2 linked regions of the Homo sapiens genome follow. The protein of the gene in region 1 interacts with the protein of each later gene in a pairwise test. Each region holds a gene or a part of one and is shown on either strand. Other genes may lie near its edges.

Evidence for each region.
Region 2: the proteins of SGSM2 (region 1) and GDPD2 interact in a two-hybrid assay, tested with the Homo sapiens proteins (one large-scale study listed by BioGRID and IntAct).

Annotation. Positions count from the first base shown.
Region 1 is NC_000017.11:2,372,001-2,375,500, reverse strand, and holds part of SGSM2 (small G protein signaling modulator 2), read right to left. Parts: intron 3,312-3,500; coding exon 3,247-3,311; intron 3,159-3,246; coding exon 3,013-3,158; intron 2,549-3,012; coding exon 2,420-2,548; intron 2,171-2,419; coding exon 1,988-2,170; intron 10-1,987; coding exon 1-9.
Region 2 is NC_000023.11:70,422,132-70,426,113, reverse strand, and holds the start of GDPD2 (glycerophosphoinositol inositolphosphodiesterase GDPD2), read right to left. Parts: upstream 2,801-3,982; 5' UTR 2,732-2,800; intron 1,139-2,731; 5' UTR 1,130-1,138; coding exon 1,025-1,129; intron 761-1,024; coding exon 657-760; intron 352-656; coding exon 258-351; intron 63-257; coding exon 3-62; intron 1-2. UniProt on the Homo sapiens protein: Has glycerophosphoinositol inositolphosphodiesterase activity and specifically hydrolyzes glycerophosphoinositol, with no activity for other substrates such as glycerophosphoinositol 4-phosphate, glycerophosphocholine, glycerophosphoethanolamine, and glycerophosphoserine.

The DNA of each region.
Region 1 (3,500 bases):
GATAAACACCTGGGGGGTGAACACAGGGCGGCTCCACCTGCACTCCAGCACCTTCCCGCAGCCCACCGCCTCCTCGGGCCAGAAGGGAGCTGGAATGCAAAACTCTTCACACCCCCTCTCCCACCACAGCCTCCAACACTGTGGCCACGGGGCACCAAGCCAGCTTCTGACCCAGCCAGCCAGGCGGAGAGAAACAAGCCTCTGGCCAAACATGAAGACACGTCTTCAGCCCTGCTTGAAGGAACAGCCCCAGGTCTTCCTGTGGCTACTGAAGGGAAGTAGGGGAGCCAGGGGGCTGAACGCTCAATGGCCAGTTTGAACTCAGTCTCATTCTAGAAACGCCTGAAGTCATGAGACCGGGAGAATGGCCTTAGTGTTTTGGTGTGGCTGGGTGGAGAGAAGCCTAGAGGTTTTAGGAAAAACAAGTTTTGCCTTATTTTCAGTACTGAGTGTTCAGCAGGACAAGACAGGAACGTTCTGTAGCAAGCACCTAGTCAGTTCCATTAGCCCTCAGGCAAGGTGGGGAGATGTAGGAAGGAAAAGCAAACATTCTGCCTCCTAGATACAGTCCACCACCATGGACAAGGCACGAGGAAAAGAAGAGACACATACAGAGACTGTTTGGGATTTTTCTCTCTCTGTTTTCACCACGTAGGGAAAGCAATGCTAAAAGTAGTTTCTACTTTGGGCAGGAAGCATGAAGTGCTGGGTAAGGCCACGGTTCTGTGGCAATCTAATACGCCAGCGAGGAGCTACTGCTGTCCATGAGCTCAGCAGCTGGGCACTGGCACAGACAGATTTTTACAAAACCCAAAGCCAGAGAGAGGGAGAATGTGTTCCTGGATAGGGGATTAAGAACAAAGCACGTGGGAAATGACAATGTGCCTTGTTTGTTCTATTTCTTTTTTTTTATTTTATTTCTGAGGCAGGGTGTCTCACTCTATGGCCCAGGCTAGAGTACAGTGGTGGTATCACGGCTCACTGCAGCCTCAACCTCCATGGCTCAGGTGGTCCCCCCACCTCAGCCTCCCGAGAAGCTGGGACTACAGGCGCACCCCAACACATGCGGCAAAGGTTTGCATTTTTTGTAAAGACAGGGTTTCGCCATGTTACCCAGGCTGGTCTCAAACTCTTGAACTGAAGCAATCCTCCCACCTCTGCCTCCCAAAGTGTTGGAATTACAGGCATGAGCCATCACACCCAGCCAGTTATATTTAACTTACTTCAACTTACATTTTCTGTTAATGTTGGTAAGGATTTAGTAAAGTAACAAGAATACACATTATCTAAAGAGGCAATTTTAAAGAAAAATTAATAAAGCGTCCTTAAAATTGAAACTTATCAGTGTTGGTTGGGCCAGGCAGTCACAGTTTAGAACTTGCTGTTCAAAAGGCAGGAGTGATGCCAGAAAGAGCTACCCTCCCGTGCTCCGAACAAGCCTGCCATAGTCAGTTCTGTACAGTGACAGGCAACATCGCGGGGAGGAAGGATCTCGCCAGTCGACACCAATGGGGCTGCTCTACGGGCTCCCCTATTCTCAGGCCCACAGATCTCAGGAAGCCTCTGCAGTCAGAGGATATGGGTGGAGAGGGGAAACTGAGACCCAGAGACGGGAAGTGCTTGCCCAGAGACATTCAGCTTGTCAGTAGTGGATCTGGGACTAGAACCCAGCGCTGCCTGTTGCTAGCTTTGAGGTCTTTCTACAAGGAGGAGGGCTTCCCTAAATCCCAGTAAGTCCATCTTTCCCTATAGTTGGCTAAAACTGAGCACAATGCACTCTCTCACTTTATTCCTACAATACCCAGAGAAGTAGGCAGCAGAGGCACAGTTAGCCATTTCCAGTTGGAGAAAATGAGACACAGGCACCTTAGGCCTTTCTCGCAGGGCCCCACCAGTTCCCAGAGGTCAGGCTGGTGCTCAGGACCACTGTGCATAAAACGCGGGTGGCCCCCGAGACCCCCAACCCTCCAGGTCCCGTCTGGCTCACATCGTTGCTGATGGTGGAGTCTCGGTGGATGAGGCGCTGCACGTGGCTGTCGATGCTGCTGCCTGAGGAGAACTTGGTGCGTGTGGCTGGGTGGGCCTCCCGCTCCCGCTGCCTCACCACCACCTCGCAGGCCTTCCACTCTGCCAACACCTGCTGGTACCTTGCTGCCACCACTGCGTCCACCTGTACTCAGACCACACCACGACCATGGGGGAAGCGTGCACCAGGCCCTCCCCTTCAGGAGCTGGGCCTGCACTGGACCTTGGGTCCTGAGTCTCAGACTCAAGACGGGCCTCAGGGTAAGGACGGTGGAGCTGCCCTGCCATGCTTCTTTCCGGCTGGGAAGGGGCTGAGGCTTCCAAGGTCCCCTCCCTGGCGTCCCCTGGCCCAGCTCCCCATCTCATCAGCCCCATGGGAACAGGCTCCCCTCACCTGCTCCATCTCCTTCTTGCTCATGCCGAACTTGTAGTGGCCAAGCAGAAAGGGCCAGACGTCCTTGCGGATCTCGTGCTCTATGCCTCCGTAGTAAACTTGCCGCAGCAGCTCCAGCTCTTTGTAGTTCTGAGGGACCCGGGGAGTCAAGACTGTGCAGCCTCCACAGTCACCGTGGCCCAGCTGGGTGAGCCCCATCCCACGGAGAATGGGCTGGGGCGGGGCCTGTAGTGACTGCTGAAGCCCAGGCAAGGCCTGCTTTGGGGTGGCCACGTCCTCCCGTGCCCCAGCTCACAGTGGGATGAGATCTCGTTCTGCTCTCCTTCCTTAAGGGGCAGGAAATGGCGCCCGGAGAGAGGCAAAGCTTTGTCCAGGGTCACAGGGCGATGTGGAGGCAGGACGGCTTCCCAGTCCAGCCCCCTTCCCGTGTCAGCCCCAGGCCCAGCTGCAAGAGATTCTGCCGGGACCCTGGTCACTCCGTGGCATCGGCCCTGGCCTGTCAACCGCACCCACTGGCACATTTTACCCTGAAGCCCTCACTCCTGCCCGCCCCAGCCCCTCGACCTGTGGCCCTGGAACCCCAGGGTTGGCACCTTTTTGTCCTTCTGATACTTGCTCCACACGTCCTTGGTGAGGCCCGCGGAGGCCCCCGGGGGCCGGTCAGGTGGGATAACGCTATGGTGCACCAGCGCCGACAGGTGGGTCCGCACCGTGGACAGGTGGCGGCAGTGTGCCAGCCCTGCGGTGGGCAGCGGTGGGCAGCAGGAGGCTGGGACCCAGGGCCGCCCGCCCCCAGCCCGCCACAGCCCGGCGCGCCCCACACTCACAGCCGTAGAAGGCCCGGGACACGATCTGCCTCTTCATACTCTCACACAGTAGCCTGAGCGGCAACCTGTGGCAACAACCGGGCTCAGCAGGGAGGGGCTGCGGCCCCTCTGGTGGGAGGAGAGAGAGAAGGGAGGAGGCTCTGTCCTGGGGGGCAGGTAAGGCACTGGGGAGGGTGCGAGGAGGAGGAGCCGCAGCCCAGCAGCCGTCAGTGGGTGCCCTGTCCCTGCCTGCCACCTGGACAGAGTGCTGTGGG
Region 2 (3,982 bases), on another chromosome or scaffold:
ACCTTGTGGAGGCTGTGCAGATGCAGGGGCTGTCTACAAAGCCGCAGGAGCAGGGCCAGGACCTAGAGGAAGAGAGCAGTGGGACTTATGGGGTGCCAAGAGGGGAGCAAGGTTACTGAGGTGGGCTTCCCAGGCTGGTACTTCCCTCCTACCCAAGAATTAGCCCCCTCCCTCAGTGGCCAGGATGAGAATAGGGAGCTAAAACTAAGCAGGAAGGAAGGCTGAGGTGGGGTTAGGCCAGCGGCCTCCGGACCCACCAATAGCAAGGATGCATATGTGACCAGTAGAGAGATGACCAGCAGGAATGCCAGGGACCAGTCCATCCAGTGTCCCCAGCGGCGGAAGAGGAATCTGTGGGAGGGGAGAGGGAGGTGTCCAAGTGGGGGAAGGGGTGTCAATAGTGGCCTGAGGGGAGGTGGGGTGGGTGGATCCAGGAAGACTAGAAGGGAGTGAGGAGAAAGCCCCTCGTGGCCAGGGGCTCCAAGGATTGAGGAGATTTTGTGGAGGGATTTTCTAAGGAGATTGGGTAGCAGCAGAGCTGGGTTTGAGCAGCTGGGCAGGGCTGGGGGATGACTGACAGTGGGCCACCCCCGGGTCCCAGGGTGGGGAGCAGGTTGACAGGTATGCTGGGGAAGCAGGGGGAATCCATGACACACTCATTGAAGTTGTGCAGGTCATTGAGAAGGACGAGCCCGATGTACAGCCAGCTCAGGGAAAGGAGGAAGGTGAGGAAGAGCAGGCCAAACCAGATACAGTCGCACTGCAAAGGGGCAGGAGAGAAACTCACAACCAATACCTACTTCAAACTCAGAGTCCCCAACGGGTGGCAGCTAAAGGGAGCTGCCTGCCCCGTGTTGGGCTGCTCTGCTCGGGGGGCAGCTCTTTCCATATTTGAGGGAGATTTTCTTCCTGGGAGAGAGAGCCCCTTCCCCCAAGCTGTCTATGAGCACAATTGGCCTCCTTATCCCCTCCAGTGAGCCTCTGCCTTCTGACTTCCAGCCTCCCCCCTCCATCCCTACTCCACCTTGCTGGTTTGCATCCTCTCTCTGGGGCATTTCCTCCAGTGGCAGCTATACAGGCAGTGGAGGCAGCGGGCCCAGACGGAGCAGCAGCCGGGGGACTCGGCCATGGTGAAGGCCTGGGGGAAGGGACACTCGACCATCAGGGACCCTGGCAGAGGGCAGATCCCAGTCTCCCTCCTAGTGTATCTGAGGAGCCCGGGGGAGAGGCAGAGGCCTGGGCCGCTGCTCAGCAACGGAGGTCACGGGGCAGGCCCAGAGTGCCAGAGTGGATGAGGCGAGCAGCCCCAGCTGCAAGCCTGGCAATGGGAGACAGTCTCCAGAGCCTTCGTTTCCCTTTAATCTTGTTACCTGGAGAGTCAGTGGGACACCCAAGAGGTCCAGCCTCTTTTCGGGCAGGATTCATATCCACTCTCTCCAGCTCCTCCCCATTTAACAGCACACACCTCTGGGGATGGAGTGCTTGCCCTGGGGGTAAGAACTCAAGAGAAACTGCCCAGGGTGGGACAAACTCAGTTCAGCAAGTTAAAGCAGGTTTGGCCAAGCTGGAGGCAACCCCATGTTGAATTGCTTTCCAGCCCAGGAAGCAGGAGTAACCTGAAGCAAAGGTTACAGTTCTGACCTGGGGCTAAGGAAGGCCCAGCTAGTTGGCCAGTTGCTATGGTTATAGAGATTATTCAGATCACAAATCCCTGAAAGATTCTCTGTGTCCACCTCTCAGGGGACAAAGGGCACTGCCAAAAAGAGAAAGACTTGAGGTGAACATGTTGCCTGGGTCACTCCCAGTCTTCTAAAGGAATCTTTGGATTTTCAAAATACAGAGCCTCCCCTCAAGTCCTGCCCTTTCCTGCCCAGTCATCCCCCAACCCCAACCAGAAGCCCAGACTCGCCTTTAGGAGCCCCACCCTCTAAGTTAGCTTTGGTGAAAGTACAACAAACGCAGGGCAAAGGTGTGTATGCGGGGTGTGGTTGTCTTGGGGCAGGGGACCCCTGTACCTTATGCTTCTGGGTTTGGCTGACTGAGCTGATCCCCAGACTTGGCTGGGTACGTGACTGATTCTACGCGAGACGGTATGTGATTTGTGTCAGCATTTGCACGCGACAGCACAACTGGCTGTCGGTACAATATGATTTTAGGTGACTTTGAGTATGTAAAGGAGCCCCTGGATACACCCAAAGTGTGTGAGCATGTGTGCGTGCGGGCTGAGGGACAGGACCTCTTGTCCTCAGAGCTCTCCCGAGGCTATGGAGTCTTAGAGGGGTGCACAGTGGGTGGGTCCGGTAAGCAGGAAGGTGTGGCTGCTTCTGAACTGCCCTCTTTATGCTGCCTTGGGAAAGGAGGGTTAGGGTAGGGGTGAGGAGCTGGAGCTGGGGGAAGGAAACCCCTCCCCTCTACGAGACCCTTCCCGGTAAAAAGCCAACCCAAAGGGAAGCCCTTGCCTCTGCCCATCTTGGAGCTGGTTTGATAGCCTGCTCTAAGCTCTTGCCTCCCCTGGGGTCCTACCCCTGCACCCCAGACACTGCCTTCCAGAGTCCCCTCCCTTCAGGAGCTGCCTGTAGGATGGGATCAGGGTCTGAGCAGCCTGAAAACCCCAAGTAGGGTTGCTGACAGGGGTGCCATTCAATCCCCCGGCCCAATCCCAGTGGGATGGAGCTGGTCTCTGCTCCACAGCTCCCACCTGTAGCCCCCCAGCCTTCCCGAACCCTCACACCTTTGCTCAGCGGCAGCTCCGCTCCGCTCTCCTCTCTGCACTGCTTCCCAGCTCCTCTCCGAGTGGTCTGCCTCCTCCCTTTTTCAGTCCTCGGTTCAGCCCTATGAGTCAAACAGGTGGCACTGTTGCCACCTACAGGAGGCTGTGTGGGTCCTCTCCCAAGGCCTGCAGCTGCTCTGTGGCCTGGGCACAGCCCGGGTGGGAAGATGGGAGGGAGGAAGCGGGAGGGAGAGCAAATCTGCTTCTTTACTCGCTGGCGGTCAGGGGGCTTGGGGTGAGGAATTCCTTTGTGCAGGCTTTCCCATCCCTCTGTCCCTCCTCCTGTTCCCCTCCCAGTCACTGCCGGGGCTTTGTCCTGGCTCAGGGAGGCGAGGGCTGAGGGCACAGGCTGGCGGGAAGCTGGTGTGTGTGGGGGGGGGAGGTGACCACACAACTTTGCAACTTGGCAGTGAGGAGAAGAGGCCCAGCCAGCCCACTGGAAAGGCGTGTGTGTGTGTGTGTGTGTGCGTGTGTGTAAGCCTAACATCAAGTCTCAAGCTCCCTGGAAATACAGCCTTGATTCATTAGGCTCCCTCCCCTATTGAGCTCCTACTTCTAATTCAGCAAGGTGCATGTATAAGAAGCTGCAGCCTGGCGCGGTGTCTTACACCTGTAACCCCAACACTTTGGGAGGCCGAGGCGGGTGGATCACCTGAGGTCAGGAGTTCAAGACCAGCCTGGCCAACATGGTGAAACCCTGTCTCTACAAAAAATACAAAAATTAGCCAGGCATGATGGTGTGCACCTACCAAAGACTAGGTAGTTGCATGGGACATCTCACAAGGCCAGGTTTAAAGCAAAGACAAGCCTTGGTCATTTGTCCCAGCTACTTGGGAGGCTGATGTGGGAGGATTGCTTGAGCCCAGGACGTCGAGGCTGCAGTGAGTTGAGATTGTGCTACTGTGCTCCAGCCTGGGCAACAGAAGCTGCAAGCTACTTCCTGAACTCTGGATAGCAAGTTGCCGTTTCTGGACCAGAGGTCCCCATGGGCCTTGTGGATCCTGGGTGACACTAGCAGTTCTCCCACCTTCCCTCATCACCCCAGACAGGAGATGCTCATTCAGGACTTGTGTCATTTCTGCTGCCTTGTCCCTAAGGCATATGAGTCTCTTTCCAAGAATCTTTTGAGGAGTGTAGAGTATATTGGGGTCACAGGCTTTTGGAAGATGAACACATAGAAAAGATGCTGTTACTATAGCATCAGCATCAGCA